Regions from separate parts of the Homo sapiens genome. Here region 1 is linked to region 2. The links come from fine-mapping of genetic effects on gene expression. A gene starts in region 2. The other region holds a variant in brackets. All regions are shown on one strand. Distances are from middle to middle.

Evidence for each region. PIP is the estimated chance that this variant, and not a neighbour inherited with it, causes the effect.
Region 1: its variant is fine-mapped to the expression of TIMELESS in whole blood (TOPMed, PIP above 0.99).

What each region holds. Positions count from the first base shown.
Region 1 is chr12:56,402,813-56,419,081 of GRCh38, forward strand. It overlaps TIMELESS (timeless circadian regulator), which reads right to left. Exons shown (of 29, transcript NM_003920.5): 27 at 15,322-15,547; 28 at 15,095-15,196; 29 at 13,551-14,974. The coding sequence ends at 14,904. Among named protein-coding and RNA genes, the nearest start is that of TIMELESS, 38 kb to the right of the region's middle. The variant G/A (reference allele first, on the strand shown) is at 11,240.
Region 2 is chr12:56,442,699-56,458,967 of GRCh38, forward strand. TIMELESS (timeless circadian regulator) reads right to left here and starts at 6,728. Exons shown (of 29, transcript NM_003920.5): 1 at 6,612-6,728. It overlaps MIP (major intrinsic protein of lens fiber), which reads right to left and starts at 11,959. Exons shown (of 4, transcript NM_012064.4): 1 at 11,556-11,959; 2 at 10,893-11,057; 3 at 10,374-10,454; 4 at 6,804-8,767. The coding sequence starts at 11,915. The coding sequence ends at 8,582. RefSeq lists enhancers at 535-1,168, 5,609-6,129, 6,152-6,271, 6,382-6,471.

The sequences.
Region 1 (16,269 bases), 40 kb before region 2:
TGCATGGTATGCAGGCACCATCCGAAAGTGGACAGCTGCAGTACTACAGCCCCTTTCTAGGACATCCCTGAAGGACAGCGGTGAAGGGGAATCTTCCCAGCGGGCAAAACTTTGAGCAGTGCATCTGGTTGTGCACTTTGCATGGCAGGAGAAATGGCTAGATGTGCGATTATATACTGATTCATCGGCTGTTAGCCAATGGTTTGGCTGGATGGTCAGGGACTTGGAAGAGGTATGTGGATGGACCTCTCTGAGTGGTCAAAACTGAAGATATTTGTATCCCATGTGAGTGTTCACCAAAGGGTGACCTCAGCAGAGGAGGATTTTAATAACCAAGTGGATAGGATGACCTGTTCTGTGGACACCACTCAGCCTCTTTCCCCAGCCACCCCTGTCATTGCCCAATGGGTCCATAAACAAACTGGCCATGGTTGCAGGGATGGAGGTTACACATGGGCTCAGCAACATGGACATCCACTCATTAAGGCTGACCTGCGTTCGATCACTGCTGAGTGCCCAATTTGCCAGCAGCAGAGACCAACACTGAGCCCTTGATATGACACCATTCCTCAGGGTGATCAGCTACCTGGTGGCAGGTTGATTATATTGGACCTCTTCCATCATGGAAAGGGCACAGGTTTGTCCTCACTGGAATAGACACTTACTCCGCATATGGGTTTACCCATCCTCCACGCAATGCTTCTGCCAAGACTACCACCCGTGGACTCACGGAATGCCTTATCCATCATTATGGTATTCCACACAGCATTGCCTCTGACCAAGGCACTCACTTTACAGCTAAAGAAGTGCAGCAGTGGGCTCATGCTCATGGAATTCATGGGTCTTACCATGTTCCCCATCATCCTGAAGCAGCTGGATTGACAGAATGGAGGAATGGCCTTTTTAAGTCATAATTACAACACCAACTAGGTGACGATATTCTGCAGGGCTGGGGCAAAGTTGTCCAGAAGGCCATGTACGCTCTGAATCAGCATCCAATATATGTTAGTTTCTCCCATAGCCAGGATTCACAGGTTCAGGAATCAAGGGGGTGGAAGTGGAAGTGGCACCACTCACCATCACCCCCAGTGACCCACTAGCAAAATTTTTGCTTCCTGTTCCTGCAACATTAAGTTCTGCTGGCTACATGTCTTAGTTCCAGAGGGAGGAATGCTGCCACCAGTAGACACAATGATTCCATTAAATTGGAAGTTAAGATTGTCAACTGGACACTTTGGGCTCCTCCTACCTTTAAGTCAACAGGCTAAGAAGGGAATTACAGTGTTGGCTGCGGTGATTGACCCGCACTATCAAGATGAAATCAGTCTACTACTCCACAACATAGATAAGAAAGAGTATGCATGGAATATAGGAGATCCATTAGGGCACCTCTTAGTATTACCATGCCCCATGATTAAAGTCAATGGGAAACTACAATACCCCAATCCAGGCAGATGACAAACAGTCCAGACCCCTCAGGAATAAAGGTTTGGGTCATTCCACCAGGAAAAAAACCATGACCTGCTGAGGTGCTTGCTGAAGGCAAAGGGAATACAGAATGGGTAGTAGAAGAAGGTAGTCATCAATACCAGCTATGACCACGTGACCAGTTGCAGAAACAAGGACTGTAATTGTCATGAGTATTTTCTCCTTTTGTTAAAAACACGCTTATGCATGTAAACACTTGTACTAAGAAAATATCTTCATTTTATTTCCTTTTCCTTTATCATGTGACATAAAATTTATTGTTGTCCTATCAGCATTTAGGTATTGTTAACTTTACGTAATAATATTGGGGTTGGGGTTTGGTGCATTTCTGGTTATGTGAAGGATAGTTGTATTATGTTAGGCACAATTATGACCTTATTATTGGCTTTATTCGAAGATTATGTATGATCTTAGGAGATGTGTATGGGTTCAAGTTGACAAGCGGTGGACTTGTGATGGTTAATACTGAGTGTCAACTTGATTGGATTGAAGGATGCAAAGCATTGATCCTGGGTGTGTCTGCAAGGATGTTGACAAAGAAGATTAACATTTGAGTCAGTGGGCTGGGGAAGGCAGACCCACCTTTAATTTGGTGGGCACAATCTAATCAGCTGTCAGTGAATATAAAGCAGGCAGAAAAATGTGAAAACGTGAGATGGACCCAGCCTCCCAGCCTACATCTTTCTCCTGTGCTGGATGCTTCCTGCCCTCAAACGTCGGACTCCAAGTTCTTCAGTTTTGAGACTCGGACTGGCTCTCCTTGCTCCTCAAGCTTGCAGACAGCCTATCATGGGACCTTGTGATCATATAAGTTAATAATTAGTAAACGCATATATATATATATACACATATATATACACACATATATGTACATATATATGTACACATCTCCTGAGATCATATATAATTTTCGAATAAAGACAATAATAAGGTAATAATTGTGCCTAACATAATACAACTATCCTTCCCACAACCAGAAATGCACCAATCACCAACCCCAATATTATTGCATAGTTAACAATACCTAAATGCTGTATATATATATCCCTAATACAACTGTGAAACAAAATTTCCGGTAAAGCAGTTTCCATGGCAGTTTGATATTTAAAGGCCAAACTCCCCCAGACTTCAAAGAACACTGGGGTCAAACAGCACCAAAGGAGAGCATCACAGGCTAACCAGGCCCCCTGCTTAGAACAACAGCATAAAAGCCTGGATACAGGCAATGGCATCCCACTTTCCCTTTCAGCAGTAACTCCAGATTCCATGCAATACTGGGGCCAAACAGTATTGCAACTGCGAAAAAGTTCTAAGGAGGGCTTATTAGTAGACCTCAGAACCTCTGCCAAAAGCATCCTCTTTGGAGAGGTGGAAGTCCAGAGGATCCCCTGGAGCATCCCCCTTTGGGATCCAGTCTTACTCTGACCTTAGGTGGGCACCAGTGCCACTTTACGTTTTCCCTCCAGAGGCAACGGCCTACTATGAGCTGTGTAAGGCCATACTTTCTCATGCTTCCTGTTCCACTAGAGTGATAGCCATGAACTAAAAGGCATTACAGCTTTATTTTTCTTTCGAAATATTTGATTTAAACACTTATTTTCCTTTAAGCCAATCAGTTAGAGCTCTTTTATATAAACATGACACACCTGACACATATATATCCACACAGAAACAGACAGAGATCCAGTAGTTTTAAGATTTTTCATGTGCCAATCTCCTAATTGCATTGCTGGCCCTGGGGTTAAGCCCTTTAAGAAGCAGGGCCAGGAAAACATGTAGTTTCTATGGCCTAATAAGTATGCATAACTGGAAGACAAAAACATTTTGAGAGGGATCCATCTGCTCCTAATTCCTGGGGCTCCATGAGGAAAACAGAAGTCTTTCCCAAAATGGGTCAGTGGCACCTCTTTCATTTTCCCAAGGAGTCCCAGGCCATCAGAGGATATCTTGGGGCTCCTCATGTGCGCATCAAGAGTGGCAAGACAAGAATGGAGAAAGATAATTCAGTCGACTGAGAAGAAAAGACCCTTCACCAGAAAAACAGAGAAATGACATAAAGGCCTTTTAAGTATACCTAAAGCTTGGATATCTATGAACATCTACTTTTAGTTAAGCTAACTTTTAACCATAGTGCTCCTTTTAAAGAAGTCCTTTTAAATCTTTTTTTCTTTTTTAAGGCAGAGTCTCACTCTGTCGCCCAGGCTGGGGTGCAGTGGTGCAATCTGGGCTCACTGCAACCTCTGCCTCCTGTGTTCAAGCGTTTCTCATACCTCAGCCTCCCAGATAGCTGGGACTACAGGTGCATGCCACCACACACAGCTAATTTTTGTATATTTAGTAGAGACAGAGTTTCACCATGTTGGCCAGCCTGGTCTTGAACTCCTGACCTCAAGTGATCCACCCACCTTGGCCTCCCAAAGTGCTGGGATTACAGGCGTGAGCCACTGCACCCGGCCCCTTTTAAATATCTTACTACCCAACCTTAGCCATGCCAAAAAGGCCAACTGAACCATGGAGTAGAGAATACAGTGATTTATATCATTCCTGCAACCAGTTTGCATGGAGAGAGAGAAGCCAGAAGTCCCACAACTTTTACCCTTTTACTGGCATGTCAGGCTTCTGGGTTCCCTTCCCCCAAGCCATGGAGCCCTATTGGCCCTGAAGTCCTGTGAAGGGGAAAAAGCTTTTTTCTTTCTCCAGAGTCTGAGGGTCAAAGGAGTCCAGTGATGTAGGATGCACTCCACCCATGAAGTGGGGGGGACTAATCAGCAGGAATTAGCCATGCTCACCTGTGCTGTGCCCTGACTCCTGCTGTCATCTGCCTCAGGTCTAGTGTTCCATTCAAGGGATTCAAACCAAAGCCTGGGACAAGAAGATGCCTCAGGAGTGTATGAACCCTTTAAATTAGTCCCAGATGGCCCTTGCCAAATTGCAGCTAGCAGCTGGCAGGGGGCACTCCTCTGTTGCTTCCCTATCACAAGCAGGTGAAGCTGTGGGGGAAGGTCCTCCTCAAATAAGGGAGAGAAAGGGAGTCTCGGGAATAGGGGACCTGGCCCAAGGTGACAACTAAAATGTTGGGCTTTTCCTGAGATGTACCTCACAGTCATGCTAAGAGAGGGGGGTGCCTAGATTGGAGAGGAGAACTGAAAGGACCGCTTGAGTCCAGGAGGAAGTCCATTCTCCTTCCCTTGATCCCCAGAATCACCCAGGGCTCCTGGATGGTAATGGTGGTCTAAATTACCAAAGCCAGGGAAAGGAACCCCGGGACCCATCAGTTCTGCTGCATCATTTGGGAGACCAGCCCTGTACCTGGGGACTGGTGTCTTGGGAACAGTCCTCCCTCCAATGGTCCATATTTGTAGCAGTCAACAGGTACAACTTAGGAGCTCTGTGGTTTGTGAGCCTGCAAGCTGGCTATTAGAGCCTCTGCCTTTTTCTTGTGTTTCCTTTCCTTCTCTTGGGCCTCCTGATCCCTATAGTAAAAGACCGAGGTGGCCGCTTTCAGGAGGTCCTCTAAAATACTACCTGGTCCTATGGCCTGCTTCTGCAGCTTCCTCTTGATATCAGGGGCTGACTGAGTAGTAAACTCATTCCCTATGACCAGGTGTCCCTCTATTGAATCAGGAGATAGAGGGGTGTGTTTTACCAAGACCCCTCTTAGCCTTTCCAGGACATCAGTGGGACTCCCATCCAATCCCTGATGTACCACAGATAGCCCAGTGCAATTCAGAGGCTCAGTTCCAGTCCCTCACAAGCCCTCCAATATGCACACCTGAAAGAATTTCTTCTTCCATTGTCCCATTTCATTACTGGGGTCCCATTTAGGGTCCTCTAATGGCACTGGTATTCTTCCAACTGGAAAAGGCTCTTCCTGTTCCCTGGCCCTATACAAGATGTAAAGCTCATCCCCAAAATTCTCTGCCACTTGACGAGAGTGGCCTGCTTTTCAGCAGTGTTCAGGGTTTGATTCAAAAGTAACATGGCCATCCTTCCAGGAGAGCTAAAATACTTGGGTTAAGTTCTGGAAATCCGTTTCTTTTTTTTTTTTTGTTTGAGACGGAGTCTCGCTCTGTCACCCAGGCTGGAGTACAGTGGCGCGATCTCGGCTCACTGCAAGCTCTGCCTCCCGGGTTCACGCCATTCTCCTGCCTCAGCCTCCCGAGTAGCTGGGACTACAGGCGCCCGCCACCACACCTGGCTAATTTTTTGTATTTTTAGTAGAGACGGGGTTTCACCGTGTTAGCCAGGATGGTCTCGATCTCCTGACCTTGTGATCCGCCCGCCTCGGCCTCCCAAAGTGCTGGGATTACAGGCGTGAGCCACCGCGCCCGGCCTGGAAATCCTTTTTATATTTTTCAGGGCCATCTCAAAACCTGCCAAGATCCCCCTTAATTTGCCTTAAGTCCTGAAGAGAAAAGGAGACCTGGACCTTAATGGGGCCATATGCACCAGGCATCTGTTGCAGGGGCAGGAGTGAGACTGGGAACAGTCTAAAATTATTTCTAGGATGAGGCAAGCTTGGAAAAGCACCTGGATAGGGAGGTGCGGAGGGAGTTGATTCCCCCGCTGGAGGTAACTCTGGGATTTGCTTCTCCAGTTCCCTGGGATTGCCCCTTGCAGCCTCTCCTGAGATGGCCCCTAGGAGGGCTGAATCAATTCTACAATGTTGGCAAAGGTCTGGGGCACCCTGCAAGGCAAAGGCCTGCACATAAAGGACCTTGGACTATTTGCCTTCGTGTTTACAGAAAAGCTTTTTTCCTGAGGCAATGCTTCTTTTCTGTGCCTCAAGGTGCTTGGCCCTAAATTGGCAATCAAGTAAATTACAAGAACATTTTCACCACAAATTTACATACAGATATGACGGCACACTTTGCTTTGTGGTACCCTTAACCTTCTATTTTATACTTGATGACTAAGCCAAATGCTCATTTTATCCAGAAATCTCTCTGGTTTGCAACAACATCCTTAACATTTAAGGATGTTGCCGCCCTATCACAGGCAGGTGAAGCTGTGGGGGCAGGTGTTACAATTTAACATTGTATATAAAAGAGATAGGAACCATGACAGCCTAGAAAGCAAGCAAGAAATAAACAAATAACAATAAAAAAGATTGGAGGTCCTAGTGTCAACACCCCAATGGGCAGTCGGGGACTGGAGTTAGTCCAAGGGCCTTTGGATAACACCAAGGTATGGCCTCGGCCAGATACCCTGTTACCCTAGGACCTCCTTCCAGTCCCATGCGACAGCTAGACCTCAATGAGGGGAAACTGGGTTGGAACAAAGCCAACATTCCCAATACTCGAGGGTGATGGGGGGTTGACAGTGTCCTCCCCGGCAAGCCTGTCCTCCATGTCTTAAGTCTGGCAGCTGTGCTAGTTACTTTTAACTGGCTGACAGAGGCCTGGTATTTTTCCTTCATTTTTACTATTGTGGAGTTTAGAGACTCTGAAAAAAATGGACAGAATTGCTTTTACTCACCCTTCTGCAAATCCCGGACAAGCCTCCAAAATATTATGGGATCTCTGGGGTGTAAATGTTTTCTGGCTACAAACCTCTGTGGCCGTGGTGCCTGAGTTCTTGTCCTTAATCCAGGAAAAACAAGGGGCGCAGACAAATGAAGGGTGAAGAAGATGAAGAGCTGTATTTAGTGTTAGAACAGCACAGAGAAGGCCGGGCACAGTGGCTCATGCCTGTAACCCCAGCACTTTGGGAGGCTGAGGCAGGTGGATCACGTGAGGTCAGGCGTTCGAGACCAGCCTGGCCAACATGGTGAAACCCTGACTCTACTAATAATACAAAAATTAGCTGGGAGTGGTGGCGCACGCCTGTAATCCCAGCTACTAGGGTGGCCGAGGCATGAGAATTGCTTGAACCTGGGAGGCAGAGGTTGCAGGGAGCTGAGATCACACTACTGCACTGCAGCCTGGGCAACAGAGACTGTCAAAAAAAAAAAAAAAGAACAGTTCAGAGGAGACCCACAGTGGGTAGCTCCTCTTCGTAGACAGCTCATCCTGTGGAGTGTTCAGCTCTCAGCAGAGACAAGGCCCTGGAGAGGGTGGCCCATGGTATCTCTGCCTTCTTTATCCTCTGGCCATCCTGTGCCCTGCTCTGGCTGAACCCATGGACCTCAGAGGGGAGAAAGTGTGTGCCAATTGGCCCATGAGCAGGCCTGGAAGAGGAATCACAAGTCCCCACTCTGGTCCATGGGACTGGCAGCCCAGCTCCCAGCCTTCAGGTCTTCCCTGGCCCAAAGGTGGGGGCCTTACTGGGGACCCACCCCCTTCTGCCCAGGAATCAATCTCTCTCCTGCTGCCATTCATGGCCCCCAGGCTTGGCCCCAACCCCTGCTCCAAGATTGGAGCGGGCACCAGTAGTGGAGAGAGGGCAGGCAGACACCCCTGAGCCTGCAAGGATGAGGGAGGGTCCTTCCTGGGGCCCCTAAGGGTGCAAGCTGAAGAGACACCTGGCTCCTGCACCTGGGAGGGTAGCTGCAGCGGCACCCGGGAAGGTAGATCCTGCTTGCTCCTGGCCCTCCCACAACAGCACAGAGAGGCTCCAGTCTACAGCTGCGGTTTGGGTGGCTGTAGCCCAGCCCAGGAGGGTGGGGGTCCTGCCTGCTTCATAGAGCAGGAGGCCTGGATCTGCAGCTGCAGTTTAGGCAGCTGCAGCGGCACCCCAGGAGCTCCCATCCCAACTCAGAAGGGACAGGGTTCCCAATGGCTCCATGGAGTTTGCAGCCCCAGCTGCACAGTTGGCATGATGGCAGCAGCCTCTGCCACCACCAGCACTTTGGGAGGCTAAGGCAGGAGGATCATTTGAGCCCAGGAGTACAAGACTAGCCTGAGCAAGATGGTGAGATCCCATCTCTACAAACATAAACAAAAATTTAAAAATTAAAAATTAGCCAGGCATGGGTGCCTGTAGTCCTGCTACTTGGGAGGCTGAGATGGGAGGATAGCTTGAGCCCAGGAGTTTGAGGCTGCAGTGAGCTATGATCACATCACCACACTGTAGCCTAGGTGACAAAGAGAAACCCAGTCTCTATTTAAAAATAATAATAACAGAACTAAAAGAAAAAAATAGATAAATCCAATATTATAGTTGGTGACTTTAACACGCTTCTTTCAACAACTGATAGACTTACTACGTACAAAGTCAGCAAGAATATAGAAGAACTTAACAATATCATCAACCCATCTAATTGACATTTATAGAATACTCCAACAGCAGAATGCACATTCTCAAGTACCTATAGAACACTCACCAAGGTATACCATATCTGGGCCATAGAAGAAACCTCAACACATTTAAAATAATTGTTTTTTTTTTTTTTTTTTTTTTTTGGTTAAGAGACAGGGTGTTGCTCTATTGCTCAGGCTGGAGTGCAGTGACACAATCATAGCTCACTGTAACCTCAAACTCCAGGGCTCAAGAGATCCTCCTGCCTCAGCCAACATGTCTGGCTGATGTTTGAAATTCTTTGTGGAGACAAGATCCCATTATGTTGCCCAGGCTGGTCTCAAACTCCTGGGGTAAAGGGATACTCCCACCTCAGCCCCTCAAAGTACTGGCATTATTGGCATGAGCCACCACATCTGGCCAGCACGTTTTTTAATCATTGTATTTTTCATCATTGTGTATCCTGTGGATATCAGGTGATGTTTATTTTGGATTCTGAACACCACATATACAGCTTGCCAAAAAATTAGAATTCATCCCTTCTATTCCTATCCAATTTTCTTATAGCACAAAACTCCCAGCCCCAGGTTCTAAGCTATGGCTCTTCAGCGAGACTCACCTCTAGCAGAGAGAACTACCTCTGACCCATTGGCCTTGTCTGACCAGTTCTATCTGAGCAGCATAGTACAAAGCTGTGCCAGTTTATAGTAGTGTCATGGGATTCTTGGGATGTCACTTTTCCAGCTGGAAACCTCTGTGGCCAGTGGTGCCTTTGCCCAAGTGTTGCTCGGGCTCACTGTGTTTGTTCCACCCACTTGGCCTGGCAGGCTGTGCTCTGCTTGTGCTACTGGCCTGGATTCCATGCCTGCCATGGGTGAACCAGATGTGCAGCAGCAAGGGGTGTGTGAGCATGGGGTCTGGCCACACTGTGCACAGCCAGGCATGCCGGCTGCAGCAGACAGGGAGCTCCAGGCACCGGCTCCATGTGAGGTTGTGGCTGGACCAGACATACTGCAAGCAGCTTCCACTGCAGGCACCAGGGAATGCGGTGGCACCTGGGAGCTTGGAGACACCAGGAACCACAGAGCCCCAAAGAGGGTGTCATAGCCCTGGCTCTGGGAGCCCCTGGGTCTGGGCTTCTCAAAGAGCCACAGCTCTTCTCTTCTTCTAGTCGCCCACATAGTGGCAAGCAGTGGAGTGACAGGGCCGGGCGGGGGGGGGCGGCAGGCGTGTTTCAGCCCTGTTTGTGTTACAGCTCTTTCAGTTCCACCATTCCTTGGGTCCTGAGTTCTTGTCCATATCCAGGAAGAATGAGGTACACAGACAACTGGAGGGCAGGGCAGAGAGGAGCTTCATTGAGCGACACAGCAGCCCTCAGGAGACTGGCAGTGAGTAGCTCCTTTCCACATGCAGGTCGATTCAATGTCTCTGTGAGTGGCTGAGTCCAAGGTTTTCATGGGCTTCAGAAGGGAGGAAGTGCATGCTGATTGGGCCATGGATGGCCCAGAATAAGCATCATGAGTTCTCATTCTGGGCGATGGACTCCACCCAGAAGTGACAGTCCGGCACCCAGGCTTCAGGCTGTCCCTGGCTTAAAGGTGGTACTTCACTGGACCTGCACCTTTCCACCCAGGAGCCTGCCTTCTGCCACCATCAATAATGTCATCCACGGGACCCAAGCTGTTCCTGCTGAGGGGCACTTGCAGACCCCTGCCAAGTCACCCTTGGCTCCCCCTCAGCCCCTCTCCCATGCTTGTCAGTGTACAAAGTTTAGAGGGGGCCAAGGTGGCAGGGGGCTGGTGTGTCAGCACCGCCAGGAGGGTGTGCACACATGGCCAGGTCACAACAGTGCTGGGCTTGGCCTCAACTTTGCTCTAAAAACAGAGTGGGAAGAGGCTAGGCAGTGGGAGCATGCACTTCTGAGTCTGCGGGGGCAGTGAGGCTTCGTAGGCCCCTAAGAGCATAGGGATGCCTGGATCCACAGCTGTGGCTGTGCTGCTGTAGCTGCACCCAGGAGGGTGGGGACCCGCCAACTTGAAAGGGGGCGGGGCTCCTGCCTGTTCCTGGCTCTCCCTGGTTCTGTGGAGCATGCAGCCCTCACCACACCTCCCCAGCCGCAGCTGGCGTCTTTGCAGTGACCACTCCAGATGGGCTGCCACTGCCAGGAGTAGGTTCCCACTCCTGGCAAAAACTGGAACACATTGTGCTCAGGATATTCCTGCCCCTGCTCACAGTACTCAGTGGGAAAGACACATCTGGCTTTTCCTGGGTCTGATTGAAGCCCGTCTTAACACCTGCAGAACAGAGGCCATGGTATCACCTGGCATGCTCCTCCTTATGCCACTGAAATTCCAGAATCCTTGGAGCTGGTGTGTATGGGACTATGTGGCTTTCACACATCCCACCCTGTATAGCCAAATCTTCAGGGCCTGGCATCAAGTTTAGGAGTCAGCCTGCTCCAGGGCTTTCCTTAGTGCCGGGCCTACTAGATCCTGGGTAGAGAGGACATATGGAAGACACCAGGCAGGAACTTTGGAAGCCAGGTCTGGCAGAACCAGGGCTCTGCAAATAC[G/A]AAGCAAGGGACATCAGGGCCTTAGTTTGGGTTCCATATGAAATGGCAGCCAGAGTGTGTGCAACATGTAGCAGTAAATGATCAGCTGAAGTGGGAGTTAGAAAACAGACCGTTTCACTCACCCATTACCTCCAGGCTTGTGTTCATTTTAGGTTAAAGCCCAGTTACATAGGAAATGGTACCGCACTGATCTTATTTGACTTCTCCTATTCCCTGGTCACCAGGGCCTTCCTCTGCTTCACTTTCTACTTAAATATTTGAGAGCACCAAATTACCAGAGGGTAGTCAGTGAGAGGTGGGCTTTCCCAGGTAGGTTATTCCAGTCCCAGTTCTCTGTCTCATGAGAGGGGACAGTTGCTTGTCTCTAAGGTCAGTAAGGGCACAATTTTGGCAAACATTTGCCTATTTGCCCTGTGGTGTTCTGCTCAGATCTCCCTTCAAGAGAACACAGAGTGAACATTCTATTTGGCCGACAGCTTCCACTCTTTAGAATGTTCTGCAGTGATCACAGCAGCATCCCTCTCTACAGGCTGCTCTGAGACAATGACAGGTGGACAGTGCTAGAGCCCAGCCAAGTCGGCCAGACATGGGACTCCTCAGTCATGTAATCTTCATTCTGGGGCTCTGTATCAACTTGGCCAAGATTTTCTGAGTAGCACTGTAATTTTTCTCTTTCTCCCTTTCATACATGTGTGACTGTCATCGTGATCTATAGGTTCTCCCAATCTATACCTGAATTGATATGTACTGACTAATCAGAGCTTGTTTAGGTGTCAGAAATGCCGCAAAAGCAGTATCTACCTCTTGCTCCCACATTCCCAGCTTAATCCAAGAGACCCAGAATAAGGAGAAATCAGACGGCTGTGATTCAAATATGTAAGAAATAGCTTTTTACTCCTCTTCTCATTTAAAAATTTCCAAAGGGTAAATAAACGGAAAAGGACAAAAATACCTCTTGTGCCTAATAAATAGTAAATTTTCTTTTTTTTTTTTCTTTTTTTGAGACGGAGTCTCGCTCTGTCACCCAGGCTGGAGTGCAGTGGTGCGATCTCAGCTCACTGCAACCTCTGCCTCTTGGGTTCACGCCATTCTCCTGCCTCAGTCTCCTGAGTAGCTGGGCTACAGGTGCCCGCCACCATGCCTGGCTATTTTTTATATTTTTAGTAGAGATGGGGTTTCACCGTGTTAGCCAGTGTCTCGATCTCCTGACCTTGTCATTCTCCCATCTCGGCCTCCCAAAGTGCTGGGATTACAGGTGTGAGCCACCATGCCCGGCCAATACATAGTAAATTTTCTATACTGATAAACACTGCTAGAAGAAACTGGAGCTGGAAATTTCAAAGAGGGATGGAAAGTCAGGGTCCAGTTCTGGACATTTCTTAGAAAGGCAGCCACGGCCGGATGCGGTGGCTCATGCCTGTAATCACGCCACCGGCTCATGCGGTGGCTCAAGCACTTTGGGAGGCTGAGGTGGGAGGATCATTTGAGGTCAGGAGTTCCAGACCAGCCTGGTCAACATGATGAACCCCCATCTTTACTAAAAATACAAAAATTAGCCAGGTGTGGTGGTGCATGCTTGTAATCCCAGCTACTCAGGAGGCTGAGGCAGGAGAATTGTTTGAACCCAGGAGCCAGAGGTTGCAGTGAACTGATACTGCGCCACTGCACTCCAGCCCGGGTGACAGAGTGAGATTCCATCACAAAAAAGAAAAAAAAAAAAAAAAAAGGCAGCTGCTAGGCCGAGCACGGTGGCTCACGCTTGTAATCCCAGCACTTTGGGAGGCCAAGGCAGGCGGATCACCTTCGGTCAGGAGTTCAAGACCAGCCTGGCCAACGTGGTGAAATCCTGTCTCTACTAAAAATACAAAAAATTTGCGGGGCGTGGTGGCTCGTACCTGTAATTTCAGCTACTTGGGAAGCCGAGGCAAGAGAATCACTTGAACCTGGCAGGCAGAGGCTGCAGCGAGCCGAGATCATGCTGCCACACTCCAGCCTGGGTGACAGAGCGAGACTTCGTCTCCAAAAAAAAAAAAAAAAAAAAAGGCAGATACTGGGGACAGCAGGACACAGCAAAGGAGCAGCACAGCCCGGATCATGGAGGGAAAACAGAGCAGCCCTGCTGGAAGGAAGCAGTGCTCAGGTTGCGAAGTGAAGAAAAGCTCAGGATGAAGAGACACCAAGACTGGCCAGAGCTAGAAAGTGTCTAGCCCTTGGAAACTTCAATTACCATGGAAATAGCTTCACTCCCACTTTTAGAGGCTATGGGAGATCCTCATCTTTTCAGGAAAAAATAAAAATGAAAAGTCAAAGCAACAGGGCAATCCAAATCCATCCTTTACTTAGAAGCCTTCCTGAGCTGAATGGCTATTTTCTCAATCTCACCTTTGCCCTACCTCGGCTGGAAGCACAGGAAGCAAGAAAGCTGACGTTTCCAAGAATGGGTAAGAACATAATATTTGCAGTATTTATCCATCCTTTTCATGCCTAGATTTTGTCCTTTTCTATGCCCCATGCCAACAAGCTGGCTTCTCTTCCTTTATGGCTCCTCCTTCTTCCTGCCGCATACTCTTGTCACCCTAAGAATTTACCCTAGACAAAAGGATCTAGAGGCAAAAATGCTTTTCTGTGTCTTCTGTAGGGAAAGCGGAAGAAAAGGGAAGGTTGTTGGTCTTTTTTTTTTTTCTTTTTTTTTGAGACAGAGTCTTGCTCTGTCGCCCAGGCATATGCACTGGCGTGACCTTAGCTCACTGCAACCTCTGCCTCCTGGGTTCAGGCAATTCTCCTGCCTCAGCCACCCGAGTGGCTGGGATTACAGGCGCATGCCACCATGGCCGGCTAATTTTTGTATTTTTAGTGGAGATGGGATTTCGCCATATTGTCCAGGCCGGTCTCAAACTCCTGACCTCAGGTGATCCGCCCGCCTCAGCCTCCCAAAGTGCTAGGACAACAGGTTTGAGCCACTGTGCCGGTCTGTTGGTCTCTTTTTACCCTAAAATTGTTAAGTTCTTCTTTCAAGAGCACAGCAGGGGAAGGGCTGGGGAACTTAGACATATCGCCAAGTCAGACTGAGATGAGAACTTCTAATCTTACATGTTTAATACCAAACACAAAGCAAACACATTCATCATCTAGAGTACTATATTCCAACCCTATCTCAAATGCAGGAATGGGCCTCTATCTGGTATCTAGAGGATGATCATAGGAAACAAAATGAGGACAGAGGCATCTGGTATCTTCTAAAAGTGGTACAAAACTCCCGCCTGTCATGTCATAAAGCTCCCCATCTGGTGCTGCGACCCACCTCCAAGAGAAAGCCAAAGGAACAGACCAATAAAAGGGGTCCGGGGTGCTTTCTCTATTTCACTCACTCCTCTTATTTGCTAAGGAGCTCCAATAACCAAAAGAAATGGTTCCTAGAAGAAGAGAACTAAATCTCCAGAGAGCTGCTGGGGCATACCGATAAAAACTGGGAGAAACAAAGACTGACAGCAGAGAAGTCCAATACTGCTGCTGAAGTTTCTCAGCCTAAATCCGTGAAAGAGCCTGGGATTCTACTGCTCTGTCCAGTAAGAGGAGCTTCTGGGTCCTGTATGACCCTTCCAACTCTGACTTGAATGCACCATCTAAAAACGTGTCTATCTCTACCCCTAGGCTTCTTAGCTCTTCAGTCATCCTCATCATCCTCAATCTGGTATCGTTTCTTCTTTTGGATTCCTGGAGCTCCCAACTCTGGTGCTGTGGGAACGATGGGGGTGAGAGAGAGAGAGAATATCTAAATATGTTAAGGGGTAAGGACGTGGTAGAGTTTGTCTTCAGGATTAGAGAAGAAAAAGAAGGTCCCATCAAATTCCCTACCTCTGTTCCTGCCCTCATCTTCTTCCTGTTCCTCGTCGCTGTCCAGCAATTGTCGTTTCTTGGGTGCTGCCTTCAGCGGCTCTTTACCAACAGCGTCTTCCTCTGCAATGACCATAAATGACACAAAATTAGGAACTCGGTCCTCATATTCTCAGAACACCTTTCCTGCCCTCTAGACCAACATGGCTGACACGTTAATACTCAGAAGATGGCTGTCGCACTATTACCCTCTGGGGATGCCAGGCCCGCTTTCTTCTTGTGGGCTAGCAAGAGGGCCCTCAGGGCTTGTGCTCGGTGCTCTTTACAGTGCTCCTCATCAGAGCCTTGCTCTCCAGGGACTTTAGGCTGCAGCTCTGGCTGCAGCTTCTGTTCCTCCTCTGGTTGACTCAAAGAAGCTGCTGCCCTCCGGAGCTGGGTAGGACTCAGCTTGGCTGGAATTCGCCAGAAGGTTTCCTACAGGGGCCAAAAAGTTGAAAAGGGAAAGGACCAGCTTTTTGTTTCCCAGAGTATGATATTCATTGAATATATATGACCCAATATTGGTGAAGATCCACAAGGGTTGTGAACTCTATTTATTATAATACTTACTATCTAATATATACCCAGTGCCTAGCACAGTGCCTGCTACATTAGGAGGTTCCCAGTTATAGGTTTTTTTGGTTGTTCTTTTTTTTTTTTTTTTTTTAAATGAGAAGGGGTCTGCCTCTGTCACTCAGGCTGAAGTGCAGTGGCACAATCATGGTCCACTGTAGTCTCGATCTCTTGGGATCAAGCTATCCTCCTGCCTCAGCCTCTCAAGTAGCCAGGACCACAGGGGTGCATGCCACCATGATGCCCAACTACTTAAAATTTTTTGTAGAGACAGGGTCTTGCTGTGTTGCCCAGGCCAGTCTCAAACGATCCTCCCACCTCAGCCTCCCAAAGTGCTGGGATTACAGGCATGAGCCACTACACCTGGCTATAGTTGTCAATTGAATAAATAAATAAATAAATAAATCCTGGGGATGTAAAGGTGAATCAGGTATGATCCTTGCTATCAAATAACTCACAATCCAATGGGAAAAAGAACAAATGTACTGTAGTATCACAGGATTTTTTTTTTTTTCTTTTTGAGGCAGAGTCTCACTCTGTTGCCCAGGCTAGAGTGCCGTGGCAAAGCAATAAAGGCTCACCCT
Region 2 (16,269 bases):
ACCAAACGACCCTCTATAGTGATATAAGATAGATGATGTTGCGGGAAGTCAGGGACCCCGAATGGAGAGACCGGCTGAAGCCACAGCAGAAGAACATAAATTGTGAAGATTTCATGGACATTTATTAGTTCCCCAAATTAATACTTTCATAATTTATTACGCCTGTCTTTACTGCAATCTGTGAACATAAATTATGAAGATTTCATGGACATTTATCACTTCCCCAATCAATACTCTTATAATTTCCTATGCCTGTCTTTAATCTCTTAATCCCGTCATCTTCATAAACTGACAATGTATGTCATCTCAGGACCCTGTGATCACTGCATTAACTGTACAAATTGTTTGTAAAACGTGTGTTTGAACAATATGAAATCAGGGCACCCTGAGAAAGAACAGAACAACAGCGATTTTCAGGGAACAAGGAAAGATACCATAAGGTCTGACTGCCTGGGGGGTCAGGCAGAATAGAGCCATAGTTTTCTTCTTGCAGGGAGCCTATAAACGACATGTGAGTAGGAGAAATATCACTGAATTCTTTTCCCAGCAAGGAATATTAATAATTGATAACCCTGGGGAAGGAATGCATTCCCAGGGGTAGGCCTATAGACGACTGCTCTGGGATTATCTGTCTTATGCGGTTGAGATAAGGGATGAAATATGCCCTGGTCTCCTGCAGTGCCCTCAGGCTTACTAGGATTGGGAAATTCCAGCCTGGTGAATTCTAGTCAGACTGGTTTTCTGCTCTCAAACCCTGTTTCCTGTTAAGATGTTTATCAAGACAATGTGTGCCCAGTGGGACATGGACCCTCATCAGTAATTCTAATTTTGCCCTTGCCTTGTGATCCTGCTCTGCCCTTTTGCCTTGTGATCTTTTATTGCCCTTTGAAGCATGTGATCTCTGTGATCCACTCCCTATTCGTACCCCCCTCCCCTTCTAAAATCCCTAATAAAAACTTGCTGGTTTTGCGGCTCAAGTCGCCATCATGGTCCTACCAATACGTGATGGCACCCACAGAGGCCCAGCTGTAAAATTCTTCTCTTTGTAGTCTTTCTCTTTATTTATGAGACCAGCTGACACTTAGGGAAAATAGAAAAGAACCTACATTGAAATATTGGGGGCTGGTTCCCCCGATAACATGTATAGCCTGCAACCTGAGCAGGGCCTTCAGCCTGGTCCAGCAAATCATTTCGGTATTCTTTTTTTTTTTTTTTTTTGAGACAGAGTCTTGCTCTGTCATACAGGCTGGAGTGCAGTGGCGTGATTTCGGCTCACTGCATCTCCGCCTCCTGGGTTCAAGCGATTATCTTGCCTCAGCTTCCCAAGTAGCTGGGATTACAGGTGCCCGCCACCACGCTTGGCTAATTTTTGTATTTTTAGTAGAGACATGGTTTCACCATGTTGGCCAGGCTGGTCTGGAACACCTGACCTCGTGATCCACCTGCCTCGGCCTCCCAAAATGCTGGGATTACAGGCATGAGCCACCGTGCCCAGCCTCATTTCTGTATTCTTGGTCCCCTTCATTGTCTCTTCCCAAAGAACCACTATTCCTAACTTTCATCATTATCCTCAAGCCCCTTCACTCTACTGCTTCCTTGCCTCCCACCTGGTTTATCTGCTTCCTTCCTGTTAGGAACAATTGAGGTTATCAGACATGAACTCTCTCAACTCTCTCCACCCAAGCCTAAAAACATACATATTTCAAACACCCACCCTTAGTTCTTTGCTTCTAATCTAAGTACTCTGTGATCCTCATTAATCACTTCCTGTCCCTTAGTTGGTTATTCCTTATTTCCAACCTTCCCTTTATACTAGCCCCATCCCCATATATTATGAGTTGCTCAAGGCTATTCCATCTGTTTTTTTCTTTTGAGGCAGTATCTCAAAAGTGTAGTGATGTGCAGTGGTGCGATCTCGGCTCACTGCAGCCTCAAGCCCCCAGGCTCAAGCTATCCTCCGACCGCAGCCTCCCAAAGTGCTGGGATTACAGGCATGTGCCCCCACACCTGTCCTAGCTCATCTTAAGGGGGGAAAAATCCAACATAAAATAAAACTTTCCCCTTTGATCTCTTATTGGCTGTTCCTCCTCCTACTTAAGTGCTGATTTTCCTTAGGCCTGCATCTTTAGCCTTCTTCCCTTCTCACTGTACGCGGCCTGATTGGGCAAACTCACCCTCTCCCATGCACTTCAACTACCACCCAAGCCAGAAGCCAGCAAATCTGTATTTCTGGCCCCTCTGAGCTATTGAGTTGACAATCTCGTATGTTAAACTGACTAACTGAATAGCATTCTCTACCTTTATGTCTCAAAGATACCTTACACTCAATAGGTCTAAAGCTGAACTCATCTTCCCAAGTCTGTCTCCACTTTGGCTCTCTCAAGGACTGACACTATCTCCTCAGTGAAGAAGGCTAAGAGTTTCACCTTATTAAAAGAAACCTAGGGCCAGGCGCAGTGGCTCATGCCTGTAATCCCAGCACTTTGGGAGGCTGAGGTGGGTGGATCACCTGAGGTTGGGAGTTTGAGACCAGCCTGACCAACATGGAGAAACCCCATCTCTACTAAAAATACAAAATTAGCTGGGTGTGGTGGTGCATGCCTGTAATCCCAGCTACTTGGGAGGCTGAGGCAGAATTGTTTGAACCCAGGAGGTGGAGGTTGCGGTGAGCCGAGATCGCACCATTGCACTCCAGCCTGGGAAACAAGAGCGAAACTCCACGTCAAAAAAAAAAAAAAAAAAAAAAAAAAAAAAAAGAGGCTGGATGTGGTGGCTCATGCCTGTAATCCCAGCACTTTGGGAGGCCGAGGCGGGTGGATCACCTGAGGTCGGGAGTTCAAGACTAGCCTGACCAACATGGAGAAACCCTGTCTCTACTAAAAATACAAAATTAGCTGGGTGTAGTGGTGCATGCCTGTAATCCCAGCTACTCAGGAGGCTGAGGCAGGAGAATCGCTTGAGGCGGAGGTTGCAGTGAGCTGAGATCGCACCACTGCACTCCAGCCTGGGCAACAAGAGCGAAACTCTGTCTCAAAAAAAAAAAAAAGAAACCTAGGAGTCACCTTAGCTCCATCTCACTTAACTTCCTTAAGTTCTTCTATCAGTTGCTGTCTATCCTTCTATCCCAATTGCTACTGCCTTAGTTCAGTTCCTGAGTAGCTCTTGCTTAGGTTACTCAACCTCTTCCTATCCTCTTTCTCTGCCTCCAGACTTTTTTTCTTTTTTGAAAGAGGGTCTCACTTTGTCACCCAGACTGGAGTGCAGTGGTGCAATCACAGCTCCCGGCAGCCTCAACCTCCCAGGCTCAAGTGACTTTCCCACCTCAGCCTCCCAAATAGCTGGGACTATAGGGTACATCACCACACCCTGCTAATTTTTGTATTTTTTCTAGAGACAAGGTTTTGTCATGTTGCCCGGGCTGGTCTTTAACTCCTGGGCTCAAGCGACCCACCCACCTGGGCTCCCAAAGTGCTGGGATTACAGGCATGAATGCAGCTGCCTCCAGTCTTGTTCAATCTAGCCTCAATATGGTTACCTGATTTAGGCATATAACAATCCTGCTTAGAACACTTCAATGGATACATAAGAAACTTCATAGTGATCGTCTCTGAGAACTAGGGGATCTAGGATAGGAGAAATATTTGTCTTTCCCTTTGGTACTATTTGAATTCTTTACTATTAGCATGCATTACTATACAAAACTAAAGTTTCAGTGACCTCCAGTGCCTACAATACAAAGTCTTTCATGAATCTCTCTCCTGTTTACCTCTCACGCTTCTCTCTCAAGCCACTACTCTATCTAGAATGGCCTCCCATCCAAATATCAGCTTAGCTCTGAAGACTCTGTGCAGGCCAGGCGCAGTGGCTCATGCCTGTAATCCCAGCACTTTGGGTGGCTGAGGCGGATGGATCGCCTGAGGTCAGGACTTCAAGACCAGCCTGGCCAACATGGTGAAACCCTGTCTCTACTAAAAATAAAAAAAATTAGCCAGGTGTGGTGGTGGGTGCCTGTAATTCCAGCTACTTGGGAGGCTGAGCCAGGAGAATCGCTTGAACCTGGGAGACCACGCCACTGCACTCCAGCCTGGACAATAAGAGCAAAACTCCATCTCAAAAAAAAAAAAAAAGACTGCCCAAAAGGGACTTCCTCCTGACTTCTCCATACAGAAGTGACCTCCTTTTCCTTAATGTCTACTGTGTACCATATTCAGACTTCCAACATGGTACTTACAATTCATGTTGTATATAATAGTTAAAATCAAAGTCTATCTCCCTCCATTAGCCTTAGATTCCCTGAGGACAGGAATTCTTTTTATTTTTTTTTTTTTTGGAGACGAGTCTCACTCTGTCACTCAGGCTGGAATGCAATGGTGCAATCTCGGCTCACTGCAACCTCCGCCTCCCGGGTTCAAGTGATTCTCCTGCCTCAGCCTCCCAAGTAGCTGGGATTACAGGAAAATGCCACCATACCCAGCTAATTTTTGTTTTTTTTTTTTTTTTTTTTTTTTTTTAGTAGAGATAGGAATTCTTATTCACCCTTGAACTTTCAGAGCCTTGCTACAGGATCAGAATTTCCAGCGATGGGGCTTAGGCAAGTGTTTTGACAATGTTCCTCAGGTGATTCTAACTATCCTATGTTAACTGCACGAAAACGTAAACTCTTTCACATCAGGAATCATCATTACGCAGCACAATGTAAGTGCTCAATAAATGCTTTACTAAATTGAACTGAAACAGAGAAGTCTGGAAGATGAGGGAGAAGAGTTTGGAGCTAAAGATTTGGAGGCATCAGGATGTAAGATGGTGTGAGTGCAGTGAGAGGAGGAAGGAAGCCAGGAAGGACTTCTTGATGACCCTTTCACTGTAACCACAGAAGACTCAATTACATGTGTTTTCCTTAGGACTTGAGTTCCTTAAGGGTCGGGAACTCTCCATCCTACTCATCTCTGTAAGCCTGGCGCTAAGCACAGTGCATGGTACATGTTAGGAGCTCAGTAACCTTTTATTGATCTTTTATTGAGCTGTATCAGTGCCCCTGGTAATAGAGGGGGGTAAAAAACTTCAGGGACACACAGGAAGAAGTGACTAACTTGGCATAGGAAGCTGGATACATTGATTTTCAGAGGGACAATTAAGCTCAGTCTTCAAAGAGAAGTTCGCTTGGCAGAGCAGTGTCAAGATCTTCCAAGCAGAAGGAACAGCAGGAACTAAGTACTGAGATATGAAAGAGGGCAGCCACAATCTTTCCACGTGGCCAGGAGTCAGGTGCGTAAGAGATTTACAAAATGAGATTGAGAGGGTCAGGGCCAGACTGAGAGGCCACAGACACCCACCTACGGATTTAAGGCTAACTGTGGGTGGTCAAAGAGGAGTTTTAAATTTAACATCAGATGATCTACCTTTACTTTGTACAAAGTACTAGTAGGGCCGGGTGTGGTGGCTCACACCCGTAATCCCAGCACTGTGGGAGGCCGACGCGGGCGGATCATTTGAGGTCAGGAGTTCGAGACCGGCCTGGCCAACATGGTGAAACCCCATCTCTACTAAAAATACAAAAATTAGCCGGGCGTGGTGGCGGGCAGCTGTAATCCCAGCTCCTGGGGAGGCTGAGGCAGGAGAATCGCTTGAACTGGGGAGGCGGAGGTTGCAGTGAGCCGAGATCGGACCACTGCACTCCAGCCTGGGCGACAGAGCCAGACTCCATCTCAAAAACAAAACAAAACAAAACAACCAAAAAAAACAAACAGGCCAGGCGCGGTGGCTCACGCCTATAATCCCAGCACTTTGGGAGGCCGAGGCGGGCGGATCACGAAGTCAGGAGTTTGAGATCATCCTGACCAATAAGGTGAAACCCCCATCTCTACTAAAAAAAATACAAAAATTAGCCGGGCATGGTGGCGCGCGCCTGTAATCCCAGCTACTCAGGAAGCTGAGGCAAGAGAATCGCTTGAACCCGGGAGGCGGAGGTTGCAGTGAGCCGAGATGGCGCCACTGCACTCCATCCTGGGCGACAGAACGAGACTCCGTCTCAAAATAAAATAAAATAAATAAAAAATTGAAAGTACTAGTCGAAGCACGAATGGCAAAGAATTGAGAGGCTCAAGGAAAAAAGCTTCATTAGCGGCTGAGGTCCAGGTGACAAACCCGAACAAGGCAACGAAGGGAGGGAGTGAGAAATCCGTTCCATAAAACCCACGATATAAGTAAAGCGGCCTGTGAATTCCGACCACTGCTGACCGCCAGGCCACACACCGGTTTTTTTCAGGAGGTCTCAACTAGATGCTAAGCTCCGAAGTGGAACTCCCTCAGGCACTTTCTGTTCTAATTCAGGAATTCCAAGCCCCTTTCCATCACAACCCCATCCCGCGGGAGACCCAAGCTGTGCGGAGCAGCGTAGGGCTAAGCCCGCGTCCGGTGAGACCCGGGAACGCGGCGCGGGAGACTAAGGAGCAGAGTACAGAATTGCGCGTGCGCGCCTGCAGCACGAGCCCCGCCCCCTGGCTCTAAACCGGGTGGCGGGAAAAGGGACTCAGCGTTTCCCGAGAATGCCCCCATAGCTTCGAAAGGATCCCCGTGTCCGCTTAGCGCCCTCTCGCCACACACTCACTCACCCGCTCCCTGCGGGTCCTCAGAAGCCCGGAGGAGCCACCGGCCCTCTGGCGCGGGGCCGCAGCCTTTCCGCCACCAGGCTCAGCTGGACCGGTCCCCGCCTGCGCGAAGAGCGAGGCGGGGCGAGCCGGGCTGGTCCACGTGACTCCGAGCGAACTGGGGCGGAGATTGGTGAAGAAGGAAGGAAAAGGGAAGCGAGTGCAGGGACTGTTTTATGTGAGGTCGATCTAAAAATCACAGCGCTATGAATTTTCTGCTGAATTATAGTAGAATCAAAGTCCGATTAGAGGTGAATTTACAAACATTCTTCCCCTTCTTCTAGTCAAGCGGACTATTCCAAGTCTTAAATAGTTAGTTAGAAAAGTTAGGTTTTATTTGGGAGGAAGTAAAGAGCTGAAGTACAGGGAGGAATGGTCTTCTGGGATAGGGGATGTCCGTTGTATTATAGGTATAAATTTAAAGCTTTCAAAGTATGCAAGAGGCTCATAAAAGGAAGAAAGCAACCGTAAATATTCATTGAACAGTTGAGGGTCTCTTCTGGCCTCTGCTGAGATGATCTTGCCAAAAGGAAAAGAAAATAGGGCTGTGCTCTGGCCCCCTGTAATCCCAGCTACTGGGGAGGCTGAAGCAGGAAGATCGCTTGAGCCCAGGATTTCTAGACTGTAGTGTGCGATGATCGTGCCTGTGAATATCCATTGCACTCCAACCTGGTCAACATAGTAAGACCCCCTCTCAAAAAAAAAAAGAAGATAGGGCTCAAACAAATAATAATCTCCTGAATTATTAAGCATTTGAATAGAAGGAATCAATTTCTGGGGTATGAGGGAGTTAGAAGAGATTTGCTTCAAGATGAAAGGACGGATGACAGAGAAATGAAAATACACAGACACAAAACAAGAAAAAAAACACGGAACTAGTGATAAAAGCAGAAAGATGCCATTTGAGGAGTGTTTTGATTTGCTCTAAATAAATTAGAACAGAGTCAAAGCCTCTCCCCTCATGCCCCCTACTACCACCCGTTCATTTATTTGCTCCAGGAATCAGATTTCCTGTGTTGGCCTTAGGGAACAATTGTGGGGCTTAAATACCATCTGCCAGGCAGCCACAACAGTGGATGTCAGGCTGACCAGTTAAGCTGCTTAATTTTTCTAGATTCTAGGCTTGCCCAAGCTCTATTTAGGTTGGAAGCTCTTTGGCCCAGGACCTCTGAAGAGATCCATTATGTCAGAATGAACACAACCAGCCAGCGGATGTAGACAGGTTTACGTGGCTTTACAGAACAGCTAAATCCTAGTGTTCACTTTTCTCAGAGCTACTTCCCCACCCAAGTCCCTGGGGCAAGCATCCCTAAGATAAGTAGGCTATATATTCCCATTAACTTCCCCCCAATTCTTCGGTACACCTACATCCTGATCTGGGGCTAATACTCCGTTTTCACCACCCACCTCCCTTGAGTCCCTTCTCCTAACCCTTGGAAGCCTTGTCTCCTCCACTTCTCTCCATCTGCCTCGTGTGAGGAGTAACTCCCTGCTTCTCTGTTCCCTCAGAAATCAAGAGCCACACACTTGACTGGCAGCAGGGTAAAGGCCAGAAACTTAAGGTGTCGGTTACCCAGTACTCACCATACTGGGTCGAGGAAGGGAGGTATAGGATGGCACCTCTTTTTGCTTCCTTAGCTCTCATGCCCCAAAACTCAGACACAGCCACACTCACATTCATATGCACAATCAGCACACACGGCGAAGGGTGGTGGGATGGGGAGGAAGGGAAGTTTGCACCAACCAGCTCATGAATGCAACTTGAAAGATTTCACACAGCAAAAGGAAAAAAAAAAAAAAAACAACCACATACATAAGTTAAAAAATAAAGAAGTACATGACCCTCCCCACAGTCTCTTTCTTCATCTAGGGGCTGGCTAAACCCCTCCACGTAAACTCAGAAGCTTTCTACTCCCTCTATTCAGCTGGAGCTTCTACAGGGCCTGGGTGTTCAGTTCAACAGGTTCCCCTGTGACCTCTGGTTGTCCATTGGAGACATCGGGTTTGGCACCCTTGAGGACAGACAGTCTCTCAGAAATACTCTTGAGCCGGGGGAAGAGAAGAAAGTCGTACAGGAGGCTGCCCAGACCCCCTCCAATGATTGGGCCTACCCAGTACACCTGTAGAAAGAGAAAAGGAATACTCAGGCTTGGGGAGGGGACAGAGTAGCAACGCTGCTCTTTTTCCAGCCACCTTAGTGGAAAACAAGATATTGTACACTTGATATCTACAATAAACTCACCATTTATTTTCTGATTCATCAAATTACTCCTTTATCCCACACCTTAGCATGTGTATATTCTATTTGTTATCAATTTGCACTAGTTTGTATGTTGCTTTCAAAAAAATTTTATACATTGTGGTAAAACACATATAAAATTTACCATATTAAATATTTTTGGACAGGCGCAGTGGCTTATGCCTGTAATCCCAGCACTTTGGGAGGCTGAGACGGGCGGATCACAAGACGGGCGGATCACAAGGTCAGCCATTTGAGAACAGCCTGACCAACAGGGAGAAACCCCATCTCTACTAAAAATACAAAAAGTAGCTGGGCGTGGTGGCAGGCGCCTGAAATCCCAGCTACTCAGGAGGCTGAGGCAGGAGAATTGCTTGAACCCAGGAGGCGGAGGTTGCAGTGAGCTGAGATCCTGAGATCAAGCTCCACTGCACTCCAGCCTGGGTGACAGAGGGAGACTCCATCTCAAAAAAATATATATATGTTTTTAAGTGTACAGTTTAGTAGTGTTAAGTATATTCACATTGTTGTGCAACCTATGTCTAGAACTTTTTCATCTTGCAAAGCTGTAACTCTATACCCATTAAACAACTGCCTATTCCACCCCACCCCCATCAGCCCCTGGTAACTATCCTTCTACTTTGCGTCTGTGAATTTGAGTACTCTAAATACCCCATATAAATGTAATCATACAGTATTTGTCTTTTTGTGACTGGCTTATTCACTTAGCATAATGTCCTCAAGATTCATCCATGTTGTGGTATGTGTCACAATTTCCTTCCTTTTTACAGGTAATATTCCATTTATGTATATACCACATTTTGTTTATCCATTCATCCACTGAGGAACACTTGGGTTGCTTTTACCTCTTGGCTATTGTGAATAATGCTGTTATGAAAATGGGTGTACAGCTTTGAAAAATTTTTAAATTATTTCCATATGTTTGGCTTGCACAACATCAACATAACCAATATTTATTGAGTGCTTACTTTATATCAGATTCTGTGCTAAATGTTTCTCACATATAACTTTCACACATTTCTCGTAATGTCCCATTTTATAGTAAAACAAACTGAAGCACAGAGTGATTATTTGCCCATGGTCACACACAAAGCCGATAACGTATTAGAACTGGAATGGGGCTGAGGCCCATCTGTGCTCACAACACATCTTGATCTCTGAGAGCAGAATTTATTCTGCTCATATTTAGTTGTCTCTCTTCATACCCGCTAGTTCAGCAACCAGTGAATACTCAGTGCATACTCCCTGACTAACCAGAGAAGGAAAAATATGAGCAAGAGCCTCTCCTTCTAGCAAAATCATGAATCCTGCTCACACAGGCATGCCAAACTCTCTGACAGCCCCCTTAGCTGAGTGCTGGTACAGCAGCCAACACACGCAGAAGGAAAGCAGGAATCCAGCCTGGAACCTGCAGTCCACAACCATCCAGAAGGGCTTCAGGATCTTGCCCCTCTCCCTTCACTCACCCAGTGGTTAGTGAAGTTCCCAGTGAGAATGGCAGGAGCAAAGGAGCGGGCAGGATTCATGCCTGCACCAGTATAATACATCTGCAAAAGAGACAGTTGTAACTGAGACACCCCCCTACTGCACCCCAGCTTCTCTCCCCACAACCCACATTGCCCCTGAGAGCTGCCATCTTTTCTCCAGCCAGCAGCAAGTGGAGAGGGACAGCCTGCATGACTCTCCAGGGGTTCCTGCAATGGGGTGAGGGCAACTGATGCCCTGTCTGGGAACAGACTATGGATCCATAGGCAAAGCCCATGTCTAGCCATGATACGTTCATTTCTACCTTGGGGTCAAGAAGGACTAGATATAGCAGTCACAAGAGAGGGATAGGGCAGAGTTGATTCCTTTGTGCCAGTAGAGAGTGCAATGGACAATGTTCATGTTTGACAGTGAAGTAGGCAGGAAGAACCCTTAAAAGTTGGGAAAGGTTTAGGGGCCCCGGAATCCTTGAATGAGAAGTTGCTCTCCTTCCTGCTTACCCCAAAGAGGTGCCCCAGGGCAAGGGAGAAGCCAACGGCCAGGGCCACGGAGCCCAGTTGGCCATTCCGCCTCTCGTCGTATGTGGCAAAGATGCAGAGCACGAACTGGAGCGTCAGGAAGATCTCCACTGTGGTTGCCTGGCCCACGCTCACCGCAGGGTGCAACTGTGCAAAGGAAGAAGAAGAGAGACAGCTCAGGAGGGCTGCCACAGTGTTACCTCCTCAAGACTTCCCCGGCAAGGATCTCGTTACGGCATCAGGTCCGTGGAGAGGAAGGATAATACAACCCCCTTCATAATCATTGTATTTGCATCTTACCATCTCCTAACAGTGCTCCTTCATGATGGAAATGATTGCAGCCACTTACATGTATGAGGAAACTGAGGCCTTGAAAGGTAAAATAAGTTTCCTTAAGAACCTGCAAGGAGTTGGAAGGAAAGCTGAAACTCAAACTCAGGTTTCTTAATTCTCAGTCCAGGGCCCTATGCCTTCCTTAAAGCTCTAAACCACCTGTCAATCCTCACCACTTCAACACACACATGCTCACACATGCACATATTGTCCCAGACCCCAGGGGAGCTGATTCACCTGCACCAGTCAGGGAGTCAGGGCAATAGAGAGACAGGACACCAGGTTCCCCATCCCCTCTCAGCCAACCATTACCGTGTTGAGTGCTAGGTTTCCTCGGACAGCAGGTGGGGTAACGCTATACAGCACAGCGGCCCCAGCCACAGCTCCCAGGAGCTGGGCTGCCATATAGCAGAAGGCACGGAGCAGGGACATCTGGGAGCCCACAAGGAAAGCAAAAGTGACTGCAGGATTGACGTGGGCTCCACTGATGTGGCCCACAGACTGCACCAGTGTAGCCAGGGCCAAGCCAAATGCCATAGCCACCTGCAGAACATGCAGGGGTCCAGGAGCCCAGCGCAGTGAGGACCCCAGCCCAAAGAAGACATAGAAGAGGGTGGCAAAGAACTCAGCGAATATGGCCCTCCAAAAGGAGGCTGATCGCAGTTCCCACATGGCAGGGGGGATGGTCACAGTGCCTGGGTCCCTGCTACCCCCATGGCCTTGTCTGGGTGGACAGTCCCCTTTATAGAGGACTCTTAATCCCTGGGAGGGGCAGGCTGAGGTAGCAGGCCCAGCCTCTTAACCCCTTCACAGCTGTGGAGGGCTAAGTCCCCTCCCCTACATGGTAAAAATGCTGGATTTTCCCGCCTTTCTCAACTGGGAGATGAGCCGAGAGAGCCATGGCAGTGAGGGTGGGATTGGGGTCACAGCAAGAGAGACTACGAGAAGTGGGGGTGAAGAACAGCAGGACTGGAAGAGTCTGCCCTTCTGTGTGTGTCAAAATTGGGGTTCATTGTCCTGATTGACATCAACATTAGAATACTCTTCAGCTCTCTTTGGAAGGTCCATCAAGCTGAGCTCACTTCATGGCATTTGGGGCTGAGCTCCTGGGGGCCTCAGCCTCCTCTGAGTCTGCCAGGGGTAAGGGTTGGGGGGAGTGGTAAGGAGTGGGGTTCAGCAGGGAAGTTGGATAACTAAAGAGAATTCTTTAGTTCCCAGGGATTAGAAGCCTTTCTCCCATTGGCTAGTTTGGGCTGGAATCTGTGGACCCTGCAGCTCTGGGACAAAATAGTTCTGCTGCGTCTGGCTTTCTCTGAGCCCGGGTTCCCTACCCCCAGTCCATGACAGCACCTCCCTTTTCAAACCCTAGGCCTGGCTTTTTAAACTACAGGGACCGACAGAGAGAAGACACTATCATCCCTGCATGGGCTGGGAGTGGGGTTGGAGGGATAGGAATAAGAAAGGGACTCGTAGTTAAACCTTAGAATCAGCTTGTATTTCATCTTTCCTAACTCACATGGTCATAGCAAGAAGTACTGAAAGGAAGGAAACAGTCATGGCTATGAAGCAATGGGAAGGTCTAATGTCCTTTAATACAGCCATGATCAGCACACCCTAAGCCTTGATCCCCAGGGAAAGGTATGGGTGTGCTGGGATCAGATCTGGGGAAACAGCCGATCAAAGAGAGGGAAAAGGATAATATGGGGAAGGAAAGTTTGGGGAAAGAGGTTCAGTTGTGCTCGGGCTTGGTGAGGGACTTGGGACCTAGGCGTGGGGTTGTGTGGTGATGGAGAAGGTAGAATGGGACATACTGATAGGTTCTACCATCTCCACATAGTGGCAAGTCATACCGGCCACAAACTTTTCTCATGAAGCACCAGAGAGCAGAAATTCGAGGTGAGGCCTGCAAGAATGGTGCCCAGCATGGGTCCTACCCAGTACACCTGTGGGGAGAGAGAAGGAACACAGATCAGGGGCTGTGCTTTCTCCTCATAATACCCAGCTTGGGGATGGACAGAAAGAGAGTTATAGTGAAGGTAGAGGGTCCATCTAACCTATCCACTGGCAGGAAGAGTTGCTGAGAACAGGTCAGAGAGCACCCAAAGGGTTTGGAGCTCTCAATTACATAGAAGAGAAACAGTCCACTAGAAGTCATTGGAATCTCCTATATTCTAGAAGCCTCATCAGTCTCCTGACTTAAGGCCCTGTAACCCTCAGTGCATCTCACCCAGTAATGCTCCCAGATCCCAGTCACCACTGCTGGCCTCAGGAAGCATGCAGGGTTCACACTGCCTCCAGAAAAGTTCCCCTGGACAGGATAAAGAGAGAGGGTAGCACATCATGGTGTTAAGAGCAGAGATTTTGGCCACAGATACTCTGGTCCAATTAGGTGAGGATAAAAAGTGACAGAACCAGCTGGGTGCGGTGGCTCACGCCTGTAATCTCAGCACTTTGGGAGGCCAACGCGGGTGGATCACCTGAGGTCAGGAGTTCGAGACCAGCCTGACCAACATAATGAAACCCCGTCTCTACTAAAAATACGAAAAATTAGCTGGCCATGGTGGTGGGTACCTGTAATCCCAGCTACTCGGGAGGTTGAGGCAGGAGAATCGTTGGAACCCGGGAGGCAGAGGTTGTGGTGAGCCGAGATCACGCCATTGTACTCTAGCCTGGGCAACAAGAGCGAAACTCCGTCTCAAAAAAAAAAAAAAGAACCAGTTACAACTGCTGGTGGGAGTATAAACTGAGATATTACTTTTTTTTTTTTTTTTTTTTAGACAGGGTTTCACCCTGTCACCCATGCTGGAGTCGAGTGGTGCAATCACAGCTCATTGCATTTTCAACCTCCTGGGCTCAAGCGATCCTCCTACCCCAGCCTCCCAAATAGCTGGGACTACAGGTGTTTACCACCATGCTCAGCTAACTTTTTTATTTTTTGTAGAGATGGGGTCTCACTGTGTTGCCTAATCTGGCCTCAAACTCCTGGGCTCAAGTGATCCTGTCACCTCAGCCTCCCAAAGTGTTGAGATTACAGGCGTGAGGCACTGTTCCCCACCTGAGATAATGACTTTGGGACACAGTTTAACACCTACTTATAAAGATGAACAAATTACATAATTTCTTTTTTTTTTCTTTGAGACAGAGTCTCACTCTGTTGCCCAGGCTGGAGTGCAGTGGCACAATCAGCTCACTGCAACCTCTGCAATTTTTATGTCTCAGCCTCCCAAGTAGCTGGGACTATAGGTGCCCACCACCATGCCCAGCTAATTTTTGTATTTTTAGTAGAAACGGGGTTTTACCATGTTGGCCACTCTGGTCTCAAACTCCTGACCTTAAGTGATCTGCCCCTCTCAGCCTCCCAAAGTGCTGGGATTACAGGTGTGAGCCACCATGCCAGGTCAAATTACATAATTTCTGACTCAGCAACTCCACTTCTCACTTATATACCCACGAGAAACTTGGGTAGCACATCGTGTAACTTTATGTAATTGTTGGCTGGGGGCAATGGCTCATGCCTGTAATCCCAGCACTTTGGGAGGCTGAGGCAGGCGGATCACCTGAGGTCAGGAGTTGGAGACCAGCCTGGCCAACATGGTGAAACCCCATCTCTACTAAAAATACAATAATTAGTCGGGCATGGTGGTGGGTGCCTGTAATCCCAGCTACTCGGGAGGCTGAGACAGGAGAATCGCTTGAACCCGGGAGGTGGAGGTTGCAGTGAGCCAAGATTGTGCCACTGCACTCCAGCCTGGGCAACAAGAGCGAAACTCAGTCTCAAAAATAAAATAAAATAAAATAAAATAATAGTAATTGTCAAGGTTCTAGTTTTTCTATTGGATGGATGGTTAGAAATGATGCTTAATTATCATTATTAAAAACAAATAAGTGGGAGCCATATATATAGGCCAATGAGGAGAGGATATCATGAACAACAAAATATTCTGTGTACCCCAAATTAATTAAAAACAGCAGTGACAACAATATATGCTTTACCACTTTCTAGTTGGGCAAGTTATCCCCGCTATATATAGGTTCCAGGAGGGCAGGGCCCATGTCTGATTTTTCACCAGTGCGAACCTGGTGCTTAACACACAGAAGGCAGTAAATAAATATTTGCCGAATAGATTAGATTAGCATAAGCTTGCTTGCTTTTTTTTTTTTTTTTTTGAGACAGAGTCTCTCACTCTGGAGTGCAGTGGTGCCATCTCAGCTCACTGCAACCTCCACCTCCTGGGTTCAAGCCTCCCAAATAGCTGGCATTACAGGTGCACGCCACCACACCTGTCTAATTTTTGTATTTTTAGTAGAGACAGGGTTTCACCACGTTGGCCAGGCTGATCTCGAACTCCTGGCCTCAAGTGATCCGCCTGCCGAGGCTTCCCAAAGTGCTGGGATTACAAGCCTGAGTCACTGCACCTGGCCAGATTAGCATAAGCTTTCTGAGTCTCAGTTTCCTCTGTATCAAATAAGATAATGTAGGTAAAGAGACTAGTACAGTGTCTGGCACAGAATAAAGCACTTAAAAACAGGAGCTACCTGCACCTGTAGTCCCAGCAAATCAGGAGGCTGAGGTAGGAGGATCGTTTGAGCTCAGGAGTCAGAGAGCAGCGTGGGCAATATGGCAAAACCCCTCCTGTACAAAAAATACAAAAATTAGCCAGGCACAATGGCACACACCTGTAGTCCCAGCTACTGGGGAGGCTGAGGTGGGAGGATGACTTGAGCCTGGGAGGTAGAGGTTGCAGTGGACTGAGATGGCACCACTGCACTCCAGCCTTGGTGACAGAGTCAGGCCCTGTCTCAAAAAAAATTGAAAATTTGGCTGGGTGCGGTGGCTTACACCTGTAATCCCAGCACTTTGGGAAGCTGAGGTGGGCGGATCATCTGAGGTTGGGAATTCAAGACCAGCCTAGCCAACATGGCAAAACCCCATCTCTACTAAAAATACACAAAAAAATTAGCCAGGCGTCATGGTGTTCACCTGTCATCCCAGCTACTTGGGAGGCTGAGGCAAGAGAATCACTTG